4 separate regions of the Homo sapiens genome follow, and regions 1, 2 and 4 are each reported to be linked to region 3. Evidence: microRNA targets listed by miRTarBase, many of them from high-throughput screens and not tested one by one. Region 3 holds a microRNA gene; each other region holds the end of a gene's coding sequence.

Region 1 (3,185 bases), not on the chromosome of region 3:
ATGAAAAAAATAAACAATAGATAATGTTTTATTGTTAATATTTTCTTTCTTGCGTTTTATGTTTGTTTTTAGCTCCCTGTGCTGTCAGGAATCTACAGGACTTGGCTCGTATTTACATTCGACGCACACTTAGAAATTTCATAAATGATGAGATGCAGGCCAAGGGGATTCCTCAAAGGGCTCCACCCAAAAGGAAAAGAAAGAGAGTTAAACAGAGAATTAACACTTACGTATTTGTGGGTAATCAGCTTATTCCTCAGCCTCTAGACAGTGAAGAGGATGAAAAAATGGAAGAGGATAACAAAGAAGAGGAGGAAAAAGATCACAATGAAGCAATGAAGCCAGAGGAGCCACCTCAAAATTTACTGAGAGAAAAAATCATGAAGCTGCCCCTCCCTGAATCTTTAAAAGCTTACTTGACATATTTTAGAGACAAATAACTTAGATCAAGAAGAAAAATGCCTACTGATAATTCCTTTAGTCTTGAAAATGTAGCATTTGTTAGGAGTTAAAAGAGAGAATTATTTCTTTCATCAGAGCAAATTATAGTGGAAAAAAAATCACTTGTTTCTGTCAGTAACACAAATGATGTATTCAGTGAATAAAAGAATCCCTTTTATAAAATCTATTTTTCTTTAAATCTTGGAAAAATGTTGTTTTAGCTCAGAGTGATTTCAAAGTGGAATGCAACAGTAGTCAAGACTTGTGTACTATAAATCCTTTTCTGATTCCTTACAGATTTGTAGTGATGAGGTTTAGATTTAATTTTATATATGGTTTAAATAATTGTTAAGCTTATATAACCTGATCTGAATTGCAGTTGTTTGCATTTCCTCTATGAAAACTTCATTTATCTAATAAGGAAGTCAAATGCTTTGTAGACTATTTACCTTACTTTTGTTGCAATCACTGTTGTTGGGTTGCTGTATATATATTCCGGGCAATATATGAGTGCAATAACAATACAAGATATTGAATAATTTAGCTTTAAAAAATCCCACAAATTTTATGAAATTTTACAGCCCTGCTACTTTTGCTTTTGAATCTCTTGCCAAAAGACATGGGTAAAATATCTGCCTCTCTCATAGAGATTTTAAGAGCACAGCAAGTGAATTATTAAAACAAAGTCTATACTTAATACAACTCTTTATATGGACCCTTTACATTTTCAGTATTTAAAAAAATGAGGTTATCTTAACTCTATAGAATTTTAAAAGTATATTTAGAATTGTTTTTTCTGTAGTTCACTGTATAAAGTATTTGGTTTTTTAAAAAAAGCAAAACCATTGTTATGTGTGACTCTTGATAGGACACAGAACGAGTGAATGAGCATGAGTGAGGCCACTTTCTTGGATGGCTGTAAGTAGCAGGGCCAGGGTAGACCTGGTCAGCGGATGCACTTTAGCAGATGGAACTTCTAGTTTATCTGAATATTTATCTTTGACAAGGTAGGGCTGAGCCTACATTTGCTTTTGATCTATCTAGTATAAGAAATATTCACAGAAATTGTATGTAGATACCCTTTGTTTTGAAAATGCTGTTCAGAATCATAGTGTAATCTTTGGGACCTATGCCATGTTCATTTCACTCCTTCCCATATTTTTTGTGTTTCTTTTGGTAAAACTATAATGGTTTTCATTTTTTACTTAATATCACACAGTTAAACTGTCCATATTTGAGCTTTATTTTAGCTTATCAGTGATAAAAAACAGGTAGTAACTGCCATTGTTTGTTTGTTTTCCTAATAAGGCCTGAAAACAGCCATTCCTTGTTAAGAAAGTGTACAATGTAACATATTTGCTAGAGTTACATGGATTATATATTTCTTAAAGGGAAAAATTTGAGAGTATCATGGACTACCACCAGCATTATTATTACAGTAGTTACTCAGATTTGGTTAAGGAAGCCCAAGCAATGTATAGTGAAAGGATTATTATCTCTCTGCTAAGATTCAGATATTGTTTCAGAAATCTCAGCTCCAGTAATTCCACAACATCTAAAAACAAATGTTTGTGATCATGTGTAAGCATGAAATTGTTCCAAGTAAGTGAGGATATTTTAGTTATGTGAAAGACAGTTTCATGGAAGGTATTTGTTTTATACCAGTGGCTGGGATGGTGGAATTGGGGTTATTTCTACAATTATTCTTAGACGATTACTAAACTGTTAAGAAATGCCCCATATCATTTTTGTATCTAGGAAAGAAAAAAATCAGTTTCATACTGTTGTCATCTGTCAGAAATGCTCATTTTATTTTGAATTAAATGTGGCTTTTGAAGTACCTAGTTACCTTGAATTCCTGGTGACCACATGTTTTTATCTGGAAAACCTGGAGAAAGTTATCTGTCCCATCTCCCCTGCTTGTTTTTTTTTTTTTTTTTGGTTGGAGCTGCTGTTTAGATGATGCTTTTACTATGCAGGAGAGAGTTTTTGTTAAGGATATATTTGAAGATTGGCTTTTCCATATTGTCCTTCATTCTTTGACCATGGCAAAGTGTACAGTAGATTTTCATGATCATTGCATATTTCTTGTCATTGAAATGTATCTTTTATGTTTTTAAATGCATTCATTTTACACTTGTGAGTTTATCATTGACTTTAAGAGGTAGAAATGAAAAATGAAAATTAAAGCTAAAGCCTTTTTATCTATTAATGCAGATATATTAGAATAAGAATATTTTGGGTTTGTGTTTATTTTTTAATGAATTTATGTTTACTTGATATGGAAAATTACGCTTTATAGGTGGAAAAGTAGCAAATAAAGATTAAGTAAAAGTAAGTGAAAATGATGGGGAATATAGTATTGGAATTTTATAGCTAGTTAAAACAGTAAGTATCATCTAATTTGGGTGTTTATTTTGCAGATGAGAAAACAGACCTAGAACCGTGGCATGTTTTGCCTGAAACATACAGTGAGTTAGAGACAGGGCCTAAGATAGCTTCTAGCATCAGATCAATCCCAAGAATCCATCAGCAACCTCAGACCAACCCAAGAAGATAATTTAAATCTATACTGCTTATTGGTCAATATATTTGGTTCTAGTATTAATAAAGAAAAATGTTATTAAAATAGCATACATAGTAGTAAAATAAAATACAAAAAGTGTGTTGATTTATAGCTGTTTGAGATGATAAAAGTGAAGCAAAGCCTGTTAAATCATTGGAAGACTTGGAAAATTATTTTA
Region 2 (3,157 bases), not on the chromosome of region 3:
GAGACCAGCCTGGACAACATGGTAAAACACCATCTCTACTAAAAATACAAAAATTAGCCAGCTACTTGGGAGGCTGAGGCAGGAAAATCACATGAATCCGGGAGGCGGAGGTTGCAGTAAGCCGAGATCGTGCCACTGCACTCCAGCCTGAGCAACAGAGCGATGCTCTGTCTCAAAAAACAAAAACAACAAAAACAAAAAACAACTGCTTTGAAAGGGATCAAAGTTGGGGACTGGGCCTTTTTTGAATAATCTCAAAACCTCATCCTAGGAAATGAATTACCCAAAGGGGCCCACAAGAGAGATCTTAATGTCAAAATATTCTGTAACAATGAGACCTGACCCACTGATCCAATACTTTAGGAAATAGCATGATGAGCAAGTGAAGGCATTGGTGCTTCACATCAGCTTCTCCCAGAGCAAAAATCTGAGATTAAAGAGGTCTAGAGGGTTAGAGGCGCACATTTCATAGTATACTTTAGTCCCTCCTGAATCACTTTTATCAAAGAGCTAGCTGTAAAATAGATATCCCGATATCCAACAAAAGCAAAAACAAAATAAACAAAAGTAGACCTGGGCTTCACAAATAAGGAAGCACTCTTCATGAAGCTCTGTAGCCATGTAGCTTCCCAAAGTAAAAGAGCACCCTTATTTGATGATGGGCCAAGAAACTCACTCACTTAAGGCCGCCATGGTGGCTCATGCCTGTAATCCGAGCACTCTGTGAGGCCAAGGTGGGCGGATCACTTGAGGCCAGGAGTTTGAGACCAGACTGAGCAACATGGCAAAACCCTGTCTCTACTAAAAATACAAAAATTAGCTAGGTGTGATGGTGCACACCTGTAATCCCAGATAACCTGTAATCCCTCTCGAGGCTGAGGCAGGAGAATCACTTGAATCCAGGAGGTGGAGGTTGCAGTGAGCCAAGATCGAGCCACTGCACTCCAGCCTGGGTGACAGAGCAAGAGAAAGATGAAAGACAGAAAGAAAGACAGACAGACAGACAGAGAGAGAAAGAGAAGGAAGGAAAGAAAAGAAAGAAATGAAGAAAGAGAGAGCTAAAGGGAAAGAAAGAAAGAGAAAAAAAAGGAAAGAAAGAAGGAAACTTAAAATTTTGGAATGCATAATAATTCATCCTTAAATTTTGCACATTTACCTTCTCAAAATAGTTCTTATTTAGCAGGGATGAAAGTAAATGCCCAGCCGGGCACCAGTGGCTCACACCTGTAATCCCAGCACTTTGGGAGGCTGAGGCGGGCAGATCACCTGAGGTCAGGAGTTCAAGACCAGCCTGACCAACATGGTGAAACCCTGTCTCTACTAAAAATATAAAATTAGCTGGGCATGGTGGCACATGCCTATAAATTCTAGCTACTCAGGAGGCTGAGCAGGAGAATTGCTTGAACCCGGGAGGCGGAGGTTGCAGTGAGCCAAGATTGCACCATTGCACTCCAGCCTGGGCAACAAGAGCGAAACTCCATCTCAAAAAAAAACCAAAAAATCAAAAAAAACAAAGAAAGTAAATGCCAAACGTATGTCAATTACTGATGAATGGAAGGAAATTATCACATTTGGCAAAATTAGTTCAAAATGAATAAATCACAGAAATTCTCCTCCCATAAGAAAATACCTAATTTGGATCTTCAGGAGTAAGAACCAGAGATCCACCAGACATTATACATGCTATAATTTAGGTATACTGCACAGAATTACACTCTTATCACATTCTCAGTAAACTCCAGACATCTTAGTCTTACAGTTGAATAAAACTGCTGCCAATGTCTTCTCTTGGTTTAACAATGAAGCTAACGTAGTTTGGAAACAAATAAGAGCTATCAATGGACAGCAAGACATCTATCTAAACCAAACCTTTAGCAGAGAGATCAGTACAGATTATGTATGATACAGACCCCAAATCACACAGGTACACACACTTTATTAGTTTCCTCTACAAGAGACAATAACATCAATCTTTTTTAACAGGAATCTCAGTTCATTTGAGAGGCCAAATAGATCCAAAGAAGGAAGATGAAAATTAAATACTTAAATTAATCAAAAGGCACTACGATACCACCTAAAACCTACTGCCTCAGTGGCAGTAGGCTAAGGAAGATCAAGCTACAGCACATCATCTAATATGAATGTTAGCAATTACATAGCAGGAAGCATGTTTGCTTTCCAGAAGACTATGGTACAATGTTCATTTGGGCCCAAGAGGATATTTGGCCAGGAAAGGATCAAGATAGATGAAGGTAAAGCCAAATCGAAAGGGATAGGTACAAAGGAGAATCCAAGCTACATAGTCAAGCAGATGGTGATGGATCAGGCTTCTTCCTCCCAAGAAACATTTGCTGCACTGTGCTGCCTCCCCCCTCAACCACCCCCCACCCCCCACCCAATGTCTGCTCAAGCTGAGCTGCCTGCTCCTGCCTTACAGGGTGCTCAGCTACCAGGACTAGGTTTGGGGTTGCCCAGGGCTCTTGCTATAATTTAGCATAGACCTTGGGGAGAACTGGTCACACATGGGTTGCCTTTGTTGCTAGTTGTTCTCAACAAAGAAAACCCTGAAGCATTCACATACAAAGTAGTCTGAGCTTCCCCAGTCACAGTCAAACACCCTCACACAACATCCTCAAAAGTCTGAAATCTTGCAGCAGCTGAGCTATAGTTAAAGCTGCAAGGCCCACAGAATTATCAAGGAAGCCAGAATGAGATAATGCAGGTAGGAGGTCCCAGCAGTTAATCTCAATCCGTCTTTCCCCAGTTCGGATAAGCTCTAATATACCTGATGTGGGATGTAGAAAGCTACACTGGAGCAAGCCGGGTCTTCTGCTGAATTTGTCATCAAATACCAAGGGGAAACAAGGGTGGGGTGGATTTTATTCTCAAAAAGCCTCAGAAGTTACTCTATTATAAAGGGACATGGCTGAATAGGTAAGAAACGGATTCTCCATTGTGAGTTCTCCTGATGGCTTCTGCAAGGATCATAGAGATGTCAATCACCTAGAAAGGCAAGAAAGGAAATCAGGTTACTATCATATGGTCAGAGATGACTGGCCAATTTGCAGACACTGATGAGCAGCCAGGCAAGTGCCCTTCCTCTTAAAACTGCAACACTGTGCTGTTTCCCTGTCATGAGGCTGCACTCAGCTATTCT
Region 3 (3,185 bases):
TCTCCTTCATGGCAAATTTCCGAATCTCTTTGAGTGCCCAAGGGGCACACTTCTTGAAGCGCACTCCATGGGTGCGCTTGTGAATGTTGATGGTGTATTCTTGGGTCACCACCTCGTTGATAGCAGAACGGCCCTTTTTCTTTTGGCCACCCTTCTTTGCGGAAGCCATTCTGTTGGGTCCAAGTTGGAAAGGCAATATTTTATTTTATTTTATTTTTTTAAGACAAGGTCTCACTCTGTCACCTGGGCTGAAGTGCAGTGGCACAATGGCACAATCAAGGCTCACTGTAGCCTCAACTTCCCGGGCTCAAGCGATCCTTCTACCTCAACCTCCCAAGTAGCTGGGACTACAGGCATATGCCTCCACACTCAGCTAATTTTTTTTTCTTTCTTTCTTTTTTTTTTTTTAGAGATGGGGTCTAGTCTGGTCTCGAACTCCTGGACACAAGGAATCCTCCTGCCTGGATTACAGGCATGAGCCCAGCCTATTAATAAATTAGATAAATCTTTGAAGCAGGCTTACTATATGCTTGTATGAAAGTTATCTTTTTAATTTTTTGAAATTTGTACTTTGACATCAATAAGAGTTACTGCCTCCTATATTACCTCTCTGTTATTATTCTCCCTCAATCTCCTTGTTACCCAGACTTGAAATATTGGCACCTGCTCCAGTTCCTTTCTTACTCTCTAAACAAATCAGTCCTCAAATCTCACTGGTTTTACCTCCAAGGTTCTCTTGGTGCCATCCCCATGATTAACGTCAGAGTTTAAGCTTCTATTCCCTCTCTCCTGAACTTTTACAATAGCCCTTACTTGGATCTCTGTAACCACTGCGCTCAAGGCTACTAGAAAAATATCCCCAAGGAAAAGCTCCGATCATTTCACTCCCCTTCCTAAAACTCGTTGGGGGTTCTTCATTACCCAACAATAATGGAAAGGCCCAGTTCCTTAGCTTGATTTTCAAAGCCTTCCAAAATTTGATCTCGAGCTTATATTCCTTAACTACTCTGTCCTTTCCTGCTCCCTTCATTCACTGTGCCTATGCACACTTTCTTTGCCTTCCTTCATACCACCCTACTGCCTGAATACTTTCTGCCCTGTATCTGCATGTCCAAACCGAAGTATAGTTTAACCCCATCTTGAAGCTCCACTGTAGTGATCCTTTAAACTGAAAGTTATTTCTCTCTGCTCCGAATTAGCAACATATTTAATTTGTATCTCTTCTATAACACATATCTCTTTCTATTTTGTAACATAGTTCTTTGTGGACATTACTGTGGTATCATTGTAGGATAGCGTCTATAATCTAACTTTGTATCCACAGTATTGCCTAACTGTGCTAATACCGATAAGAGGGCCAGTGAAAAATTGTTTAGCAGGAACTGCTGAAAAAAATTAAACTCTGAACTGAAAAAGTAGTACTGAGGCAGGATAGGCAGTCAAGGAAGTGCCCATATCCTCAGGACGCAGCAACCATGGTGACCCCAACAGTCAACACAATAAGCCTCAGCATTTGAATTGTGATTGAACTCAGTCGAGCAAAGCTATCTTCAGTAGGAAATTTCTTCTATAGAGAGCATGAGCACTTTGATTTTACCTGTCCTCAAACTGACCTTTTGCTCATTATAATAGCAAAAAACATGCCCTTGGGTGGAGATTTACAATGCTAATGGGACACCTGAGGGAGGAACATGGGTGCACAGCTACTGCACATGTGCAGCCAGAGGACCAACCAGAAGATGCTTACTACTAGGTTGGTGCAAAAGTAATTGTGGTTTTTGCATTTAAAGTAATGGCCAAAACCGCGATTACTCTTGCACGAACCTAACGGTAACACTTCTTCCCACCTCCTTATGAATAATCATGCAAATAATACATGATTAGCAATAACCTCCAGCAATAATCAATGTTGTCTCATCCTTACGAGCAGCCTGCCCTGAATTCTCTCTCTCTCTCAGGGTGTGATGTCTATTTTGTACTTAGCTTTCAAAATTTTTTTTTCTTTTGCAATAAATTATGCTGCATCTCTTTTGCTGTATGTCTCTTGTTTAAATTCTTTTAAACTAAGAAGACAAGAACCAAGGTCTTGCAACAGCCTCCAACACTACCACATTATTTTTTGAATGGCTGAAGTCCCATCAAATTATGTTCCCCAATCGCTCTCTCTTCTTGTGAATGTTTTTCTTTCTTTTTTTAAAAAATTAAATATCTAATTTTAAAGGAGAACAGTGAATATTCTTTAAAACCTAAATTTAGTGTATCTTCCTTTCTTCTTTTTGTCGTATTTTTTTCACCATACGTAAGATTTCTCATTTCAACATAGTGAGTCCCACCATTTGACTATTGCAAGTTGTTTTATTCATTAATGAGGGTGACAGTTTTCTGTGTGAATATGCCCATCAAAAGAGTTTCCTATACAAGTATTTGCTCATGAAGCACTAACATTTTTATTTGGTCTTTCAATTTATGAAGAAAATGTAAGGGATGCCCATTTCTTTACCTGGGTGAAATATTAGTCTCTAAATCCCAGGCACCCCCAAATCAATCAGAGCAAAGAAAATATGGCACGTCTACTGTCTACTACACAATGGCTTTCACTTTTATCACATTATAAAACAGTGTTTCTCTATGTGGATGGATTTCTTCCCAGATTCACATGAAGAGCTTGTTACGAAAGTATATTCCCAAGCCCCATCTACATTCAGAATCTTTGGGGCTAGATCTCCAAGAATCTTCCTTTTTAATTAATCTCACAGATGATTCTTCGCCATGTTGGAGTTTATGAATCACAGGCTAAATTTGTGTCTTCTTCTAAAAATGCAAAGAGAAGCAGAGACCCCTAGAGAATTGCATAAGTGTGCCCTAAACAAACCAAGAGGGTTGACGAAGTCTGTTCATCTTCTCTCTTGTCTCAAAGTATCCTTGTTTCTTTGTAACTTCCTCCCAATACTTTATTTTGAAAATGTTCAAACATACAGAAATGCTGAAATAATTGTACAGTGGACACCCGTATACTTCACCTAAATATTACCATTAATATGTTACTGCAGTTGCTTTATTAGAGATCCTTGTTGTTGTTGTTTTTTTAACAATGATTTTTTTTTTTGAGACGGAGTCTCGGTCTGTCGCCCAGGCTGGAGTGCAATGGTGTGATCTCGGCTCACTGCAAGCTCCGCCTCCCAGGT
Region 4 (3,185 bases), not on the chromosome of region 3:
TTATTATTATTGCTTTATGAATTTGGGTTACCACTTTGAATCATCATCCTACTCCTAGCATATCTTGGTATAGAGAATTACTTCTGGGGCAAGAGGAAGACTTTTATGCTTTTTAATGAATACCATGAAATTATTCTACTTTACTAAGTTAGGAATATTCATTTATTGGGTCCTTTCCATAAGCACATTTAAAAACCATCCCTCTGCTCCACAAAATATTAAAACTTATAGCCACATTGTGCAAGTAATCTCAAGAGCTGGCACAACGGATAATATACCAAAAAGGAAGATCAGCTTAAATTTCAGTTACAACTTCACTGCCATCACTACTTTAACAAATCAGAAGACGCCAGATTGCTCCATGCCTCACTCCACCAAACCAAATAATTTAATGATTTAGAAAAATTGCAATCATTTGTATCACTAAACTAGGATACAGCTTTGAAAGCAGTAAAAAACGCAAAACTTCTGCTTTTATACTCATCAGTCTTTAAAGCATGCTATTAAAATCTAATACTCACATAGGACATTCAGTTTTCAGATCACGTTACTAGCTAAATGTTTCTCTTCATTCTATTGCAATTCTAACATACAATGAATTTATTAGTACATGATTTTAAACATTTTTATTGTACTCTTTTAATGTGTTTATATTGGAGGTGAGGGTAGAATGTTTTATAAAAGGAAAATGGGGATTTGCTTTTGATTGTAGGTCTTTGCAGATCCGCTGGTTCCTGAGTGATAATACACAGTGCTGGCTGTCAGGAGACAGTCTCCTTGTTTATTAGCAATGACCAGCTTGGATGACAGATGGCATCTGCTGGATGGCAAGTGGGAGATGGGGAAATCGGATCTTGGAAGACAAGAAAAAATTAAAAAAAAAAAATTTTTGCTTTAACAGCCTTCTCTTCATGATTATTTTTAAAAGCAAATGTTGCCTGAGAAGAATTTTACTTTGCACAGCCTGGTAAAGCTCTTCTGGACAGAAAAATAAAAACAAGAAATAACCCAAACCCACACACTTTGTGATTAAACCCCTCCCCAACAAAATAACAAAAAACACCCTCAAAGGCAGGTCCCGTTAAAAACTAGTCTGGATAAACTGGAATTTACCCTAGAATTTATACCCAAGATTTAAAAACACCCCTGCAATAATCACATTACCTTTCATACCATTCTAATTACCTTATTTACAAAGATAACTAAAGCCAACATCACTTCCAATTCATAAATGGTTTACATTGAAATGTATCCCTATTTGTCTTCATCCTTTGTAACAGAGAATACATACATATACATATATATAAGGAATAATACAGATTCTAACTAATCACTGCAGTATTTGCTGATGGTTACTTTTCTATCGGTTTACACAGTGACCTCTATACTTTGCTAATATGCATTTAACTACACAACAATATTGCACAAAGTAATATTTATATAAGATTTAACCTATTTCAGAATATTTTAGAGAAAATTCATATTTGATATTTCAAAAGATGCAGCTAAGTTTTCATGGTGACAGACATAATAAAGCAGCATCTTGTATTTTTTTTTTTTTTTGCCTATGTTAATGTAAATATTTCAAATCTTACCATCCAGGAAAAAAAAAAAATCTCCAAATTGCACTGTAACCAGGGAGATATAAGAATCTGGTCTTAGGTGTGGGGAGTACTCTTCCATTAATAAACAAAAGGCCTACTGTATTATTAACTAAGAGAAAGTATAATGTGAATCATGTTAACATTCTAAAATAACAGAAAGTTAGGACCATACTAGCAATGTGAACTGTGCCTGTTTGAAAAGAAAATTTAAATACTCAGGCACTAAGCATTAGCCTACCTGAAACTCTAGGATGAAGTCTAGTGCTGTATTCTTTCTTAGAAAATAGCAACACAGAGTAATAGTAAATAAACCCAGGTATTCACCAGTTAAAACTGTGAATTGAAGTGTCTCAGTAGTAGATATTTATCATGAAGAGGTTGATGCCAAGTGACAAGAATAGTTTATCATAAGATTGATGCTCAAAATATGGCAGCCTCATCAGAAAGACTATTATTATTCTCTAAGTTTAATAGTTGTGATCAGTTTAGGAAGCAAAATTATCCCCACAAAATGTGAGGATGCCAGGAAGCAGAACAATAGAGTATCATGTCAACATTATCTCTTTTACCCAAAATATCTTCAACAGTTAGCATATATTCTAGAAGAGATTAATGAGCCATGGATAATGAATGACCAAGGACTATTCATCTTTAGATTTTTTTTTTAATTGAAATATCCACTGGGCTTTAAATAACAGATACAAAAAAAAGACAGTTTGGATCAGAAAGTGCTGTGCTTTCTCTTTTGTTAAGAAACCAGAGAGCCACTGAAATTTCCTTGGAAACTACTTGTTATTTGTGGTTAGAACTAAATAACTTACTTGCCCATGTACCAGATGCAGAAATTCTTTCCTGCAACCTATGCCATTTTCACTGTAGAAATTGAACCTGTGCCATAAAGACACAAGTACTAAACCATAAATCTTATTTATCCATAAAAACAGCAAATATGGCAAGAGACAAGGCAAGATAAAATTAAGGGAAGTGAATAATTTACCAAACAAGAATCTGTTATTCCAGAGAATTCTCATTTTGATTTGAAGAAGAGATTGAATTGTTACCTCACACCTTAAAACAGAAAGTAGCAGCAGACCCACTATTACATACTGTACTAACGGGATAAGATACAACTCTTAACTTTGCATAATCTGTGTAAAAAAGATATGCTTGACATTTGTGGAATGTCATTTCTCTTTATAGAATTATAGGCAAGATTTCTCCAATAAAACTTAACTTAAGCCAGTTATAAAACTATAACTTCACATCAAAATTTAAAAAAGTTAAAAAATGTGTTTGAATATGTACATATCACACAGAAGTGGTTGAATGTTCTTGCAGATTGTGTTGCTGGTCAGAGTCCAGTCTACTTTCCACTTTTAAAACTGGAATAGGCTGAGTCTTCTGATCTTGCTGTAGATTAAGTTCTGATGCAGGTGGGAAAGATGATGAAGCAGTTGTTAACAGCTGAATCTCTGTGCATGCTTCTTCAGATTCAGTTTTTATCCTCACACATTGGGAGTCAACTTCTAATTCTCGCTTTCCAGTTAAACCACAGTCCATGTTAGAATTGCTTTCTGTGTT

Evidence for each region. The annotated mature microRNA hsa-miR-548ay-5p reads AAAAGUAAUUGUGGUUUUUGC and lies in region 3 at 1,762-1,782, shown strand. An mRNA with a match to its seed (bases 2 to 7 or 8) in the 3' UTR can be bound and repressed. Matches are read on the target gene's strand: a 7mer-m8 pairs with bases 2 to 8, a 7mer-A1 pairs with bases 2 to 7 and ends in A, and an 8mer does both.
Region 1: miRTarBase lists PCMTD1 as a target of hsa-miR-548ay-5p. Seed matches in the 3' UTR shown: 7mer-m8 at 892-898.
Region 2: the mRNA of PRPS1 is a reported target of hsa-miR-548ay-5p. The part of its 3' UTR that is shown has no 7-base or 8-base seed match.
Region 4: miRTarBase lists RSBN1 as a target of hsa-miR-548ay-5p. Seed matches in the 3' UTR shown: 7mer-m8 at 1,427-1,433.

The regions. Positions count from the first base shown.
Region 1 is chr8:51,817,606-51,820,790 of GRCh38, reverse strand. It overlaps PCMTD1 (protein-L-isoaspartate (D-aspartate) O-methyltransferase domain containing 1), which reads left to right. Exons shown (of 6, transcript NM_052937.4): 6 at 73-3,185. The coding sequence ends at 440. Among named protein-coding and RNA genes, the nearest start is that of PXDNL, 9.8 kb to the right of the region's middle.
Region 2 is chrX:107,649,786-107,652,942 of GRCh38, reverse strand. It overlaps PRPS1 (phosphoribosyl pyrophosphate synthetase 1), which reads right to left. Exons shown (of 7, transcript NM_002764.4): 7 at 1,917-3,003. The coding sequence ends at 2,911. Among named protein-coding and RNA genes, the nearest start is that of PRPS1, 23 kb to the right of the region's middle.
Region 3 is chr3:32,504,939-32,508,123 of GRCh38, reverse strand. MIR548AY (microRNA 548ay) reads left to right here and starts at 1,735; the gene lies at 1,735-1,841. It also overlaps the pseudogene RPL31P18.
Region 4 is chr1:113,763,068-113,766,252 of GRCh38, forward strand. It overlaps RSBN1 (round spermatid basic protein 1), which reads right to left. Exons shown (of 7, transcript NM_018364.5): 7 at 1-3,185. The coding sequence ends at 2,913. Among named protein-coding and RNA genes, the nearest start is that of PHTF1, 5.2 kb to the left of the region's middle.